3 separate regions of the Homo sapiens genome follow, and regions 2 and 3 are each reported to be linked to region 1. Evidence: microRNA targets listed by miRTarBase, many of them from high-throughput screens and not tested one by one. Region 1 holds a microRNA gene; each other region holds the end of a gene's coding sequence. Distances are between the middles of the regions.

Region 1 (4,000 bases):
CTGCTACCATGTAAGATCAGGAAATGTCACAGAAAGATCTGGGTTTCCAGCTTTTTTATTTTTTTATTTTTTTTTTGGCAGGGTCTCACTTTGTTGCCCAGCCTGGGGTGCAGCCGTGTGATCACAGCTCACTGTAGCCTCGAACTCCTGGGCTCAAGTGATCCTCCCACCTCAGCCTCCTGAGTAGCTGATGTTATAGGCATGTGCCACCACGCCCAGCTAATTTTATTTTATTTTATTACTTTTTTAATACATGGTCTCATTCTGTCGCCCAGGCTGGAGTACAGTGGTGCCATCTCGGCTCATTGCAACCTCCAACTCCTGGGTTCAAGCAATTCTCGTGCCTCAGCCTCCTGAGTAGCTGGGATTACAGGCATGTGCCACCACACCTGGCTAATTTTTGTATTTTTTGTAGAGACGGGATTTCGCCATGTTGGCCAGGCTAGTCTTGAACTCCTGGCCTCAAGTGATCTTCCCGCCGCAGCCTCCCAAAGTGCTGGAATTATAGGTGTGAGCCACTGCACCCAGTCTGTTTTATTTTTTAGTAGACACAGCGTCTTACCATGTTGCCCAGGCTAGTCTTGAATTCCGGGGCTCAAGCGATCCACCTGCCTCGGCCTCCCAAAGTGCTGGTATTCCAGGCGTGAGCCACGACGCCCTGCCTGGATTTCCAGCTTCTCTTGACAAATGGGCAGCTCTGGTCTCTCAGGGCCTCCCAGCAGCTGTGGCTGAAGCAGAGCCGCAGGGGCCTTTGTTAAGACAGTCCATGCCCCCTGGCCCCGCATCCCCGTCACCCCTGCCGGGGCTGGTTTCTCATGGTCAGCGGTTCCCAGCCAGGGAGGAGAAACCTCGCTGTGGGCATTCGAGTTTGCGCCCTGGTTCCAGAGCATCCCAGTGTCCGAGAACCAAGGTGGTCTCCCGTCAGTTTTCCTCACCCCGTTGGGATGCCAGACTTCCCTCATTCCTCACAGGTCAATGAGTACGTCGATGCTCGGGACACGAACATGGGGGCGTGGTTTGAGGCGCAGGTGGTCAGGGTGACGCGGAAGGCCCCCTCCCGGGACGAGCCCTGCAGCTCCACGTCCAGGCCGGCGCTGGAGGAGGACGTCATTTACCACGTGAAATACGACGAGTGAGTCATGGCAGGTGGGCGGGCCTGGGTATTCAGGCTCTGTGACGCGCATCCTTGGCTGCGGGTGTTCAGGCCAGAGCTTGGCACTGTCTCGAGATGGTGATCAGGATCTGGGGCCCCATCCTCGAATTCCTAACAGCATACGAGGCTGCCCACTTGGGGACTAGCCTGGGGACCCGAAGCCGGCTGCCCCCTCCTGTGTCTCCGCGGAGGGTTCTGCTCGATCAGTGGCTGAAACTGCCACCCCATCAGTTTTTCTGTTTTATTCCATCTTCCGGGTTTGTCATCTCTCCCTCATCCCCACCCCTAACGTCAGTCTCCAGTCTTTGCACAAGTGTTTACTGGGCACTTCCTACCTGCCAAGTTCGGGGTCCACACACCAGTGGACACAGATGGTGGCTGCGTCTGTCCGTGCTGCCATCGTGAGATTTCACAGACGGTGTGGCTTAAACACGGACATTGGTTGACTTGCTCACTGCAACCTCTGCCTCCTGGATTCAAGCGATTCTCCTGCCTCAGCCTCCTGAGTAGCTGGGACTACAGGTGCCCGCCACCACACCCAGCTAATGTTTGTATTTTTATTTTATTTTATTTTTATTTTATTTTTTCGAGACAGAGTCTTACTCTGTCACTCAGGCTAGAGTGCAATGGCGTGGTCTCAGCTCACTGCAACCTCCGCCTCCCAGGTTCAAGCGATTCTCCTGCCTCAGCCTCCCAAGTAGCTGGGATTACAGGTGTGTGGCCACCACGCCTGGCTAATTTTTGTATTTTCAGAAGAGATGGGGTTTCACTATGTAGGTGAGGCTGGTCTCAAACTTCTGACCTCGTGTTCCGCCCGCCTCAGCCTCCCAGAGTGTTGGGATTACAGGTGTGAGCCACTGTGCCCAGCTTATTTTATTTTTTTGAGACAGTTTCACTCTGTCCCCCAGGCTGGAGTGCAATGGTGTGATCTTGGCTCATTGCACCCTCCATCTCCCGGGTTCAAACGATTCTCCTGCCTCAGCCTCCCAAGTGGCTGGGACTACAGGCGTGCACCACTGCGCCCAGCTAATTTTTGTTTTTGTTTTGTTTTTGAGACAGAGTTTCACTCTTGTTGCCCAGGCTGGCGTCAATGGCGCGATCTCGGCTCACCGCAACCTCTGCCTCCCGGGTTCAAGCAATTCTGCCTCAGCCTCCCGAGTAGCTGGGATTACAGGCATGCGCCACCACGCCTGGCTAATTTTGTATTTTTAGTAGAGATGGGGTTTCTCCATGTTGGCTGGTCTCCAACTTCCGACCTCAGATGATCTGCCTGCCTCAGCCTCCCAAAGTGCTGGGATTACAGGCATGAGCCACCGTGCCCGGCCATGCCTGGCTAATTTTTGTATTTTTAGTAGAGGCAGGGTTTCACCGTGTTGGTCAGGCTGGTCTTGAACTCCTGACCTCAGGTGATCTTCCCGCTTCGGCCTCCCAAAGTGCTGGGATTACAGGCGTGGGCCACCTTGCCCGGCCTCTCCTCTTGTTCTAAAGACACCAGTCCTGTTGGATTGGGGCCCACCCTACTGCAGTGTGATCTCATCTTAATATGATTTCATCTGCAAAGGTTCTATCTACAAAGACCCTGTTTCCAAAAACAATCCTATTCGTGGGTACTGGGGATCAGCCTTTGAACATCTCTTTTTGCAGGGGACACGGGCAACCCATAACAATTTTGTACCTGGAATGTGCCTTAATATACCTGTGTGTTCTCAACACCAGCATATAAGCCTGTTGGGAGGGGCCTCTGCACACTGTCGGGAGGGGCCGTCCCACCTCGGCTCGTTTCCCATTGAGGGAAGGAGGCTTGGTCTTAGCACGGGGTCTAAGGCCCGGGCTTTCCTCCCAGCTACCCGGAGAACGGCGTGGTCCAGATGAACTCCAGGGACGTCCGAGCGCGCGCCCGCACCATCATCAAGTGGCAGGACCTGGAGGTGGGCCAGGTGGTCATGCTCAACTACAACCCCGACAACCCCAAGGAGCGGGGCTTCTGGTACGACGCGGAGATCTCCAGGAAGCGCGAGACCAGGACGGCGCGGGAACTCTACGCCAACGTGGTGCTGGGGTGAGCCTCGCGTCCTGGGGCGAGCCCTTCCTCTCTCCTTTCCTCCCCTCCCGGGGCCCCCGGACTGGCTTTGAAGCCGTCCAGCCAGCGCTGTGTGTGCGAGGCCCTTAGCCTCCGGCCTGGCCTTCCTGCCTCCCCTCTGGGGTCTGTTCCTGCTCACTGCTGAGCATCTTTCTAAGACCGACCACCTTGTGCCCCTGAGTGCCTCTGCCCAGGGAACTGTCTCTGACCCCCAGGCCCTGACAGGCAGAGTTGTCAAACTTCCTTTTTCTCATGGTGTTTTTTTTATCGCTCTGTTGCCCAGGCTGGAGTGCAGTGGTTCGATCTCGGTTCACTGCAAGCTCTGCCTCCTGGGTTCATGCCATTCTCCTGCCTCAGCCTCCCGAGTAGCTGGGACTACAGGCGTCTACCACCACACCTGGCTAATTTTTTTGTATTTTTAGTAGAGACGGGGTTTCACCGTTAACCAGGATGGTCTCGATCTCCTGACCTCGTGATCTGCCTGCCTCGGCCTCCCAAAGTGCTGGGATTGCAGGCAGTGAGCCACCGTGCCTGGCCTCAAGCTTTCTTTTTCTCTCTTGTTTGTTTCAAATTTGGTGAATAGGTCCCATTCACAGGGTCAAAATAGAAAGCACCCAAGACCACACATGAAGGTTCTCCCTCCTCTGCCTGGTCACCCAGTTCCCCTTTTTGGCGACATCACTGTTACCAACTTTCCAGGGACATTCTGTTCATAAACATACACGCCAAACCACACCGCTTAGGAGTTGGCAAACTGCAGTCCACAG
Region 2 (4,000 bases), not on the chromosome of region 1:
GCTACGGGCACTGTCCCGCCAAGACACTTTTGATGCCGACACCCCCGGCAGCCGAAACTCTGCCTACACGGAGCTGGGAGACTCATGTGTGGACATGGAGACTGACCCCTCAGAGGGGCCAGGGCTTGGAGACCCTGCAGGGGGCGGCACGCCCCCAGCCCGACAGGGATCCTGGGAGGACGAGGAAGAAGACTATGAGGAAGAGCTGACCGACAACCGGAACCGGGGCCGGAATAAGGCCCGCTACTGCGCTGAGGGTGGGGGTCCAGTTTTGGGGCGCAACAAGAATGAGCTGGAGGGCTGGGGACGAGGCGTCTACATTCGCTGAGAGGCAGGGGCCACACGGCGGGAGGAAGGGCTCTGAGCCCAGGGGAGGGGAGGGAGCGAGGGGCTCACACCTGACATGTATTCGCCTCCAGGGGGCGCTGTCTCCCTCCTTTCAGATGCCTTTGCTCAAAGCTTGGGGTTTCTTTGGTGTTACCATCCCAGCTCCCGGGAGGCCCTTAAGCCCCAGCTGTCGGTTTTTACCTGCCTGTTGTGGATGGATGGGGGATACCCACCTTTCTGAAGTGTCCCCTTTCTCCCATCTTAAGGGGCTCTCCTCCCTCACCCTCCTAGAGAAAAGGTGCACTTCCTTAACTCTTTCTACTCGGGGCCCTAAGTGACGGTCCTAAGTGGGATGGCTCTCCTTCTCCCAAGCTGCAGTACTGGGGAAGGGCTGGGCGCTTTTCCTGGAAAGGGAGGCCACAGATTCTTTCCCATGGGGGCTCTCTTCCCCAGACCCCAGATCCAAGGTCCCTCACCCTGCCTGCCCCTTCCTCCCAGCTTCCTGGCAGCATCGTCTGGTCGGTGAAAGCCATAGCATGGACACCCCATGGGGAGCTTGTCTTGGGGAGGGTTCTGGGTGGAAGCTGGCAGGCATACAGCACCCTCTACCCTCCGTGGCCATGGCAACGTCCAGGGCCCAGAACCCTGAGGAGTGAGCGGCCGAGACGCTGCTCCCCACCCCCCACCTCCATGCCTCAGCCTTTGCCTACCCCAGGAATGAGCTTGGCCTCCAACATCCCTTGCCTGCTGCCATTAGTAGAGGGGGCCCCTCTGCATCTGAGCCCCCCATCCCTGTGCCACCTGGGTGTGGAGCCCATGGAACACTCTGGTCCGCCTCATTTTAAACCAAAAAACTGCTCCTTCACCCTCACCCTGAGGCCCCAGGGGAGAGGACCCGTGGGATGGTGCCCAGGGGTTGCCTTGGGACCTCGGATCTCCTCTGGGGGGCTTGGCTGCTGCTGTTGCTGCTCTGTATTTGCCTCTCGTGATTCTGTTTGTTACCCATGTTCACTTCCCCCAGGAGAGGCCTTGGTACCCCCTCTCCCCTGGGGCATCCCTTTGCCTTGGCATCCCTGTAGCCCAGCAACCCTGCCCCTCCCCAGCATCCCAGCTGGGCCAGAGAGAGCCGAGTGTGCCAACAAGGACTGGGGCCTGCCCGGCTGCCCGCCTCAGGGATGGGCACCTCATGCCTGTCTCGCCACCTCCTGTGCCAATGTCCCACCCTCCACCTGGGGGTGGGGTGCAGCTTCCACTTACTGATTAGAAGACACCACTGCCCTCCCTTCCCCCCTCCCTGTCTGGTGTCCTGTGCCCCCATCTGTCTGTCTATATTTGTCTGTACTCCCCTAGGAGAAGTATTTTGCCATATATAAAACCACTGTCCTGTCCTTTGTGGCTGCCTCCCAAGCCTGCTTCTTTGTCCTCGCCACATAGTCGTCAGCGTAGGCACCTGGGAGCTGCTGATATGCACGGGGAGTTGAAAGGGTGGGTGCCTGAAGATGTTGTGCCCTGAGTCATTGACTCAAAAGAAAAGATGATCCTTTGATTTTGGCCCTCTGATGTATTGTGCCCAAGCCAGGAGCTGCTTGGGCAGTCCCAGCTCCACACTGGCCCTGAGCCCCTTCACTTACCTGTCTCTCCACAAGTAGAGCCAAAGGCAATGGGAAGCTCAATGTTGCTCAGTGGGTGAGATCCAGACCCACTGGTGCAATGTCTTAAATACACATGACTGTTTTTCTGCTCTTGTGGCATCACTGTGCCCCAACACCTCAGGAGAGGGAGGGGCTGAGCTTCTGGCTCCACTAATGCCCCCCTCGTTCCTGCTAACCAGCTTTGGGGACAGGGAGGCAGACTACTTGTGGGGGCAGGTCAGAGAAAATCAGGGATTCTGCCAGTCCCAGACTGAAAGTCAGCAGGTGAGTGTACCCATTCCTCCCATCCCCAGCTGGCAGGATGTGGACTTCTGACAGTTACTGCAACCACCTGTGTCCTGCCTCACACAGTACCCTCAAACTATTTCCCCTCCCTCCTGGTTCTTTTTCTTTTTTTTTTTTTGAGATGGAGTTTTGCTCTTGTCGCCCAGGCTGAAGAGTGCAGTGGCGCGATCTCGGTTCACTGCAACCTCCGCCTCCCAGGTTCAAGTGATTCTCCTGCCTCAGCCTCCCGAGTAGCTGGGACTACAGGCACCTGCCACCACGCCTGGCCAATTTTTGTATTTTTAGTTGAGACAGGGTTTCACCATGTTGGCCAGGCTCCTGATCTCAGGTGATCCACCCACCTTGGCCTCCCAAAGTGCTGGGATTACAGGCATGAACCACTGTGCCCACCCTGGTTCTTGTTTTTTGTGCTGGTCGCCGTGGAGGACTAAAATTCCTGAGTCCGCTACCTGAGTGCTGAGGCCCAACATGAGTGAGTGTGTGTGTGTGTGTGTGTGTGTGTGTGTGTGTGTGTGTGTAGGGCAAAAGACATCCCCCAAGACCCTACAGATGAGGAGTTAGTGGATCAAAGGAAAGGGAAACTGGGCAGGCCCAGAGGTCAAGTGGCTGACCCCAGTTCCCTGGGGGAGCCAATGGCAAAGTTGATGAGAGCCTAGTCTCTGCCTCCCAGCATAGTGCATTTCCCACTGCCTTCCTACAGAATCATTCATTCCTGTGTTTCTTCCTTGAACAAATGTTTATTGAGCACCTCCTATGTACCAGGCACAAGTCTACGTAGGGGCCATAGATTATTTCAGCACAGCATAATGTGCTCTCTGCTGTGGGAGCACTGGGTACTGTGGGAGCATTGGGTACTGTGGGAACCTGAAAGAGGGGTTAGTCCCATAACCTGGGGAGGTCAGCTGAGGCTTCCTGGCAGAGGTGAGGCTTGAGTAGAATCTGGAAGCATGGTTAGCAGACAAATGGGGAAAGTGTTCAAGGCAGAGAAAGCAGGGGACATGCATGACATATTCTTGGCACCTCACCACCAAAGTGTGCTCTCAAGGTGAATTGGCAGGAGCAGGTCACAGTGGGCCTTGAGTCATGTTAAGGAGTTTGGGCTTTGTCCTGAAGCTCGTATGCAGAAATGGAAGGATTGTAAGCAATTAGCAAGATTGCTTTGTTTGCAGTTTGGCGCATAGATTGGAAGGCCTAGCTTAGAAACAGCTGTGATAATCCAGGTGCGAAAGGAGGGTTTGCCTTACGCCACAGCAGTGGGACTGGAAGGGAGGCAAAGAGGCCAGAGAGATCTAGCAGTTAGATGGCCGGGCTTGGTGGCTTATGCCTGTAATCCCAGCACTTTGGGAGGCTAAGGGGACAGGAATGCTTGAGCCCAGGAGTTTTAGACTAGTTTATGCAACATAGTGAGACCCACCTTTTTACAAAAAATTTTAAAAATTAGCTGCGTGTGTAGTCCCAGCTATTCGGGAGGCTGTGATAGGGAGGCTGAGGTATGGTGGATCTCTTGAGCCCAGGAAGTCAAGGCTGCAGTGAGCTATGATCACACCACTGCACTCCAGCCTGGATGACAGAGCGAGACCGTGTCTCAATAAAGAAATTAAATTAATAAATAAATGTTAGCATCTTGAGCTCTTGGAGAGCAAGTGGAGGCGGCTGATAAGAGAAAGGAAGGTGAGGCCGGGCACGGTGGCTCACGCCTGTAATCCCAGCACTTTGGGAGGCCGAGGTGGGTGGAT
Region 3 (4,000 bases), 30 Mb from region 1:
ACCAGCCTGGCCAATATGGTGAAACCCCATCTGTACTAACAATACAAAAATTAGCTGGGTGTGGTGGTGTGCCGCTGCTAGTCCCAGCTACTTGGGAGGCTGAGGCAGAAGAATTGCTTGAACCCGGGAGGCAGAGGTTGCAGTAAGCCAAGATCGTGCCACTGCACTCCAGCCTGGATGACAGAGCGAGACTCTGTCTCAAAAAAAAAAAGAAGATTAATTTTCCAGTTGTGATGGTGCTATAAAATAAAGCTCGTTGTTTTCAAAAGCTAATCCTGGGTTGGGCATGGTGGCCCACGCCTGTCATCCTAAGCACTTTGGGAAGCCAAAGTGGGTGAATTGCTTGAGCCCAGAAGTTTGAGACCAGGCTGGGAAACATAGCAAAAGCAGTCTCTATGAAAAATACAAAAATTAGCTGGGTGTAGCAGAAGTGCCTTGTAGTCCCAGCTACTTGGGAGGCTGAGGCAGGAGGATAGATTGAGCCCAGGATGTTGAGGCTGCAGTGAGCTGTGATCGTGCCATTGCACTCCAGCCTAGGCGACAGAGTGAGACCTTGTCTCAAAAAATAAAAATAAAAAAGCTAATCCTTTTAAGGAAAAAAATTAAATAAATAGCAGTGTGAGGAATATTTGAATAAAGCAAAAATTGTGACGGTAGTACTCAAAAGCGCCAAGATGGTGAGACGCTGCTTCAGGGTCCCTTGTGCTCTGTGTAAGTTTCCCCACCAGAGAGTAAATTTGTTTGACTCATCACTGCTGTTCATCCTGACATTTATGAAAGGCTCTTCAAGTTTTCTGGGATGAATGAATGAAGGAATGATTATGAGGCAGTCCTAGGCTGCAGGAGGCTGTAAAAGGTGGATTGTCTCACTTGTCTGTTTTCCACACACCCGTCCTTCCCCAAAGTTATCGGGAGCCCACTGGGTGAGCCCCTGTCCCAGAATCTGGTGTTCCATGTGGAAGATCCTCCTCCATGCGGAAGATCCTCCTCTGGTCCCTGCTGCCCCGGCAACCTGGGCCCTCAGGCGTGGCTGGGCTAAGGGTGGGGCCAGGAGTCAGGCAAAGGAATGTGCACTACTCCTGGCCAGCTGCCAAAGAGATATCAGGAAGGAGGTGGTTGCTATGGCAACTGGGGCATCTTGGGAGGTGAAGAGAGGTGATAGGTCCCGCCACCCCAGGCTGGGTGGGGTCCCCTGTGAGGTCCTGTGTGAGATGCAGGTTTCAATCTTGACCCTCTCCCCTCCTTTTGCACCTCCTGCCGTTGCCCCTGCAGGACTGGCTTCTGGCCAAGCTAAGGGTCCATTTCAGGGATAGGGACCCGGACCCAGCTGTGCTCATGCATCCCTCTTCTGTTCACTCCTAACTCTCCCTCCTGTTCTCTGGCAGGGTGGAGGGAGACTCTCCCCTCTTCCCCCCTCGCTCCCCAACAATTCATTAATTAGTTTCCTTAAGCAGCTTGCAATGCACAACATGCTTTTCCTCCCCCGGGGTTTCCCGAGACCTGCGGTCCCCTGTCATGCTGTGACTGGGAAAGGGGGAGGCAGAGGAGGTTGGGTTGAGGAGTCTGTCCTCCCACCTCTGCCCGTCTGCTGCCATCGATCCTGCTAACCACCACCTCTGCAAAAAGAAGCCCTGGGCTCCCGCCAGGCCTGCTGCCTCAGCCCTGCCCCCCTCCCTAGGGTAGCTTCCAGCCTCTGCAGCCCCCCCCACCCCCCGCCCTGCTTCGGATTCTGCAGATATGGCTCAGTGCAGCAGCCCCCGCCTGCTGGGAAGCGCGGAAGGGAGGGAGCCATCCAAGTGGAATTCGGGTTCCCTTCACTGCCAGGGGCTTCTCAGCACCCCTGGTCCCCTGCCCTCAGTGCTGGAGACCCTTGCTGGGCACTGGCTCCCTCTTGAAGCAGTCTGTGCCTTGCTCATCTGCAGAAGCAGGATTAGCAGTGGGGGCTATTAGGGGGCGACGGTAGAAGTGGGTGTTTAAGTGGGTGCATAACTGGGTTAATTGGTGTGGAATGGAAATCAGTGTGTGGCTGGATGGGGGCAGTAGGGGCAGCTAGGTGTATACCCAACAGCACCTCTGGGATTGGAAAACACCCCTGCTGTGGGCTGGAAGGAGGGTCCCATCGCCCCATTCCCACACATAGGGTCTCACTGCAGTGGTTTGGGCCCCACCCCACATGGCTCCCTTCTTCTCTTTCTACTCCCCTCTCTCCCCATGGGTCCGTCTCTCTCCCTCCGTCTCTCTGCTTCTCTCTCCATAGCGGTCTCAATCCCACTATCTCCCAGGCTCTCATTTTTTTTTCTCTCTCTCTCTGCATCTCTGTCTACTGCTCTCAGCCTCTCCCCTCCACTGGGAATCTCTCTGAGTCCATCTATTTGTCTTCCTGGGTCTTTGTATCTGTGACTCTGGATCTCCTGCCTCTCTTGGTCTCTGTCTCTTCCAGGTTCTCCCTGTCTGTCTCTTGCTATATCCCTTCTCTCTGTCTCTTCCTTCAGCTCTCACTCCTTTCCTCTGAACCTGGCTGTCAAGGGTTTCAGGAAACAGACACCCTAGGAGACAGCACTGGAAAGAAGAGGGACATGAACCTCCTCCCCTTCCCTTGCCCACCCCAGGGACCCTGAAATCTTCCAGAACGTCTCTGGTCGCAGACCCACCCGCTCCCACCCTGCAAGCTCATCTCTTCCCCGTCTGCTACCACCACGGTGCGGGACCAGCCACCCGGTTGCCATAGCGACCTGTCCGAGCATCCCTTCTCCCGGGACTGCCACTCTCCAACCGCAGGTCTGGCACAGGACGCCTGCCGGGGAGGGGGTGTCCCAGAGACCCGGAGGGGCGATCGGGGGGGCGCATTACAGGGGCTTCCGCCCACAGGAGGAGCGGACCTCCCTCCCCCAACTCCCTTGCCTTACCATTGCTTGAATCTCCCGACACCCTCTCTCCTAGGCTCTCAGATCCCGGAGCCCCCCTGCAACCCCCTCCCCAAACGACGCTCACCCTTTGTGGGGGTCTGGGTCGGGGTCGCCATGCTGGGCCGGAGCAGGGGGCTGCTGGATGCTTTGGCGGCGAAGGCGCGCTGCAGCAGCTGGAAGCAGGACGGACCGATGTGGGGGGGAGCTGGGGGGAGCCCTGGCGTGGGGGGGCCTGCAGCCAATGGGGGCCCGGGGAGCCCGCCCCCGTGCAGGCCACCCCCGCCCCCGCCCCCGCCCACCACCGTCGTCCCCGCCCCTTCCTCTAGGGTGGGGCGCCCCCTGCTGGGGCCCAGTGGCGCTGGCGTTTCGCGCTGAGGGACCGAGACCGACAAAGTGCTGTCGAGAGGAACGCACGTTTTATTGGAAGTCTTGGCGGCAGGGGGAGTCTGCGGGGGCAGGGCTGGGGAAGGGGCGGCGGAGGGGGCGGTGGGCGCGCAGGTGGAGCGTGGGAGATGTCAGGTGCCAGGGGAGTCCTGTGAGGGTGAAAAGGGTGAGAGGCGAGGGGGGACGTCCAGCCCCACCCCTCGCCGCCCTTCAACTCTGGCACTTGGCCCCCTCCCTCTCCCGCCTTTCCTTCCTCCCTCCTTCCCTCCCACCGCCGTGTCAGAGCTGCAGCACCTGGCCGGATTCCATCGCTCCAGGTGTTTCTACCGCCTGCGGGTGGACAGACCTGGGGGGAACACGGAGATCGGGGGTCATTCTGGAGAGGCATCCCCAGCTCCTGGGCAGGTGGGGCCCGCGGCGGGGCAACTCCCCGCCCTCCGCTTTCAGATCCAGCCCTTCCCTCTACGCAGCCAGGGAGGGCCGGGAAAAGCGGTCCTTGGAACCAGCCCTCTCCCCAGAATACCCGCAGTCTCCCCAGACTCACGGCGGATGGAGCTGCGGAAAGTTCCCTCCTCTTCATCGGGTTCCCCAGTCCTGGGAAGACAGAGGCAGAGGGATTTCGGGATGGAAAGGGGGAGAGGCTGCCCTTCTAGGAACCCCCCAGTACAAGCCTCCTTTCCCAGATTGGTGTAACTAGGCCCAGATATGGA

Evidence for each region. The annotated mature microRNA hsa-miR-4747-5p reads AGGGAAGGAGGCUUGGUCUUAG and lies in region 1 at 2,943-2,964, shown strand. An mRNA with a match to its seed (bases 2 to 7 or 8) in the 3' UTR can be bound and repressed. Matches are read on the target gene's strand: a 7mer-m8 pairs with bases 2 to 8, a 7mer-A1 pairs with bases 2 to 7 and ends in A, and an 8mer does both.
Region 2: miRTarBase lists CACNB1 as a target of hsa-miR-4747-5p. Seed matches in the 3' UTR shown: 7mer-m8 at 1,609-1,615.
Region 3: miRTarBase lists FXYD1 as a target of hsa-miR-4747-5p. Seed matches in the 3' UTR shown: 7mer-m8 at 3,370-3,376.

What each region holds. Positions count from the first base shown.
Region 1 is chr19:4,929,745-4,933,744 of GRCh38, forward strand. MIR4747 (microRNA 4747) reads left to right here and starts at 2,943; the gene lies at 2,943-2,996. It overlaps UHRF1 (ubiquitin like with PHD and ring finger domains 1), which reads left to right. Exons shown (of 17, transcript NM_001048201.3): 4 at 972-1,132; 5 at 2,997-3,212. RefSeq lists an enhancer at 837-1,336.
Region 2 is chr17:39,171,521-39,175,520 of GRCh38, reverse strand. It overlaps CACNB1 (calcium voltage-gated channel auxiliary subunit beta 1), which reads left to right. Exons shown (of 14, transcript NM_000723.5): 14 at 1-2,068. The coding sequence ends at 328. It overlaps CACNB1-AS1 (CACNB1 antisense RNA 1), which reads right to left and starts at 892. Exons shown (of 4, transcript XR_934743.3): 1 at 804-892. RefSeq lists an enhancer at 1-113.
Region 3 is chr19:35,142,356-35,146,355 of GRCh38, reverse strand. FXYD1 (FXYD domain containing ion transport regulator 1) reads right to left here. Exons shown (of 8, transcript NM_021902.4): 6 at 3,835-3,884; 7 at 3,585-3,636; 8 at 3,247-3,439. The coding sequence ends at 3,614. FXYD7 (FXYD domain containing ion transport regulator 7) reads right to left here and starts at 3,101. Exons shown (of 6, transcript NM_022006.2): 1 at 2,992-3,101. The coding sequence starts at 3,022. RefSeq lists enhancers at 2,318-2,879, 2,880-3,440.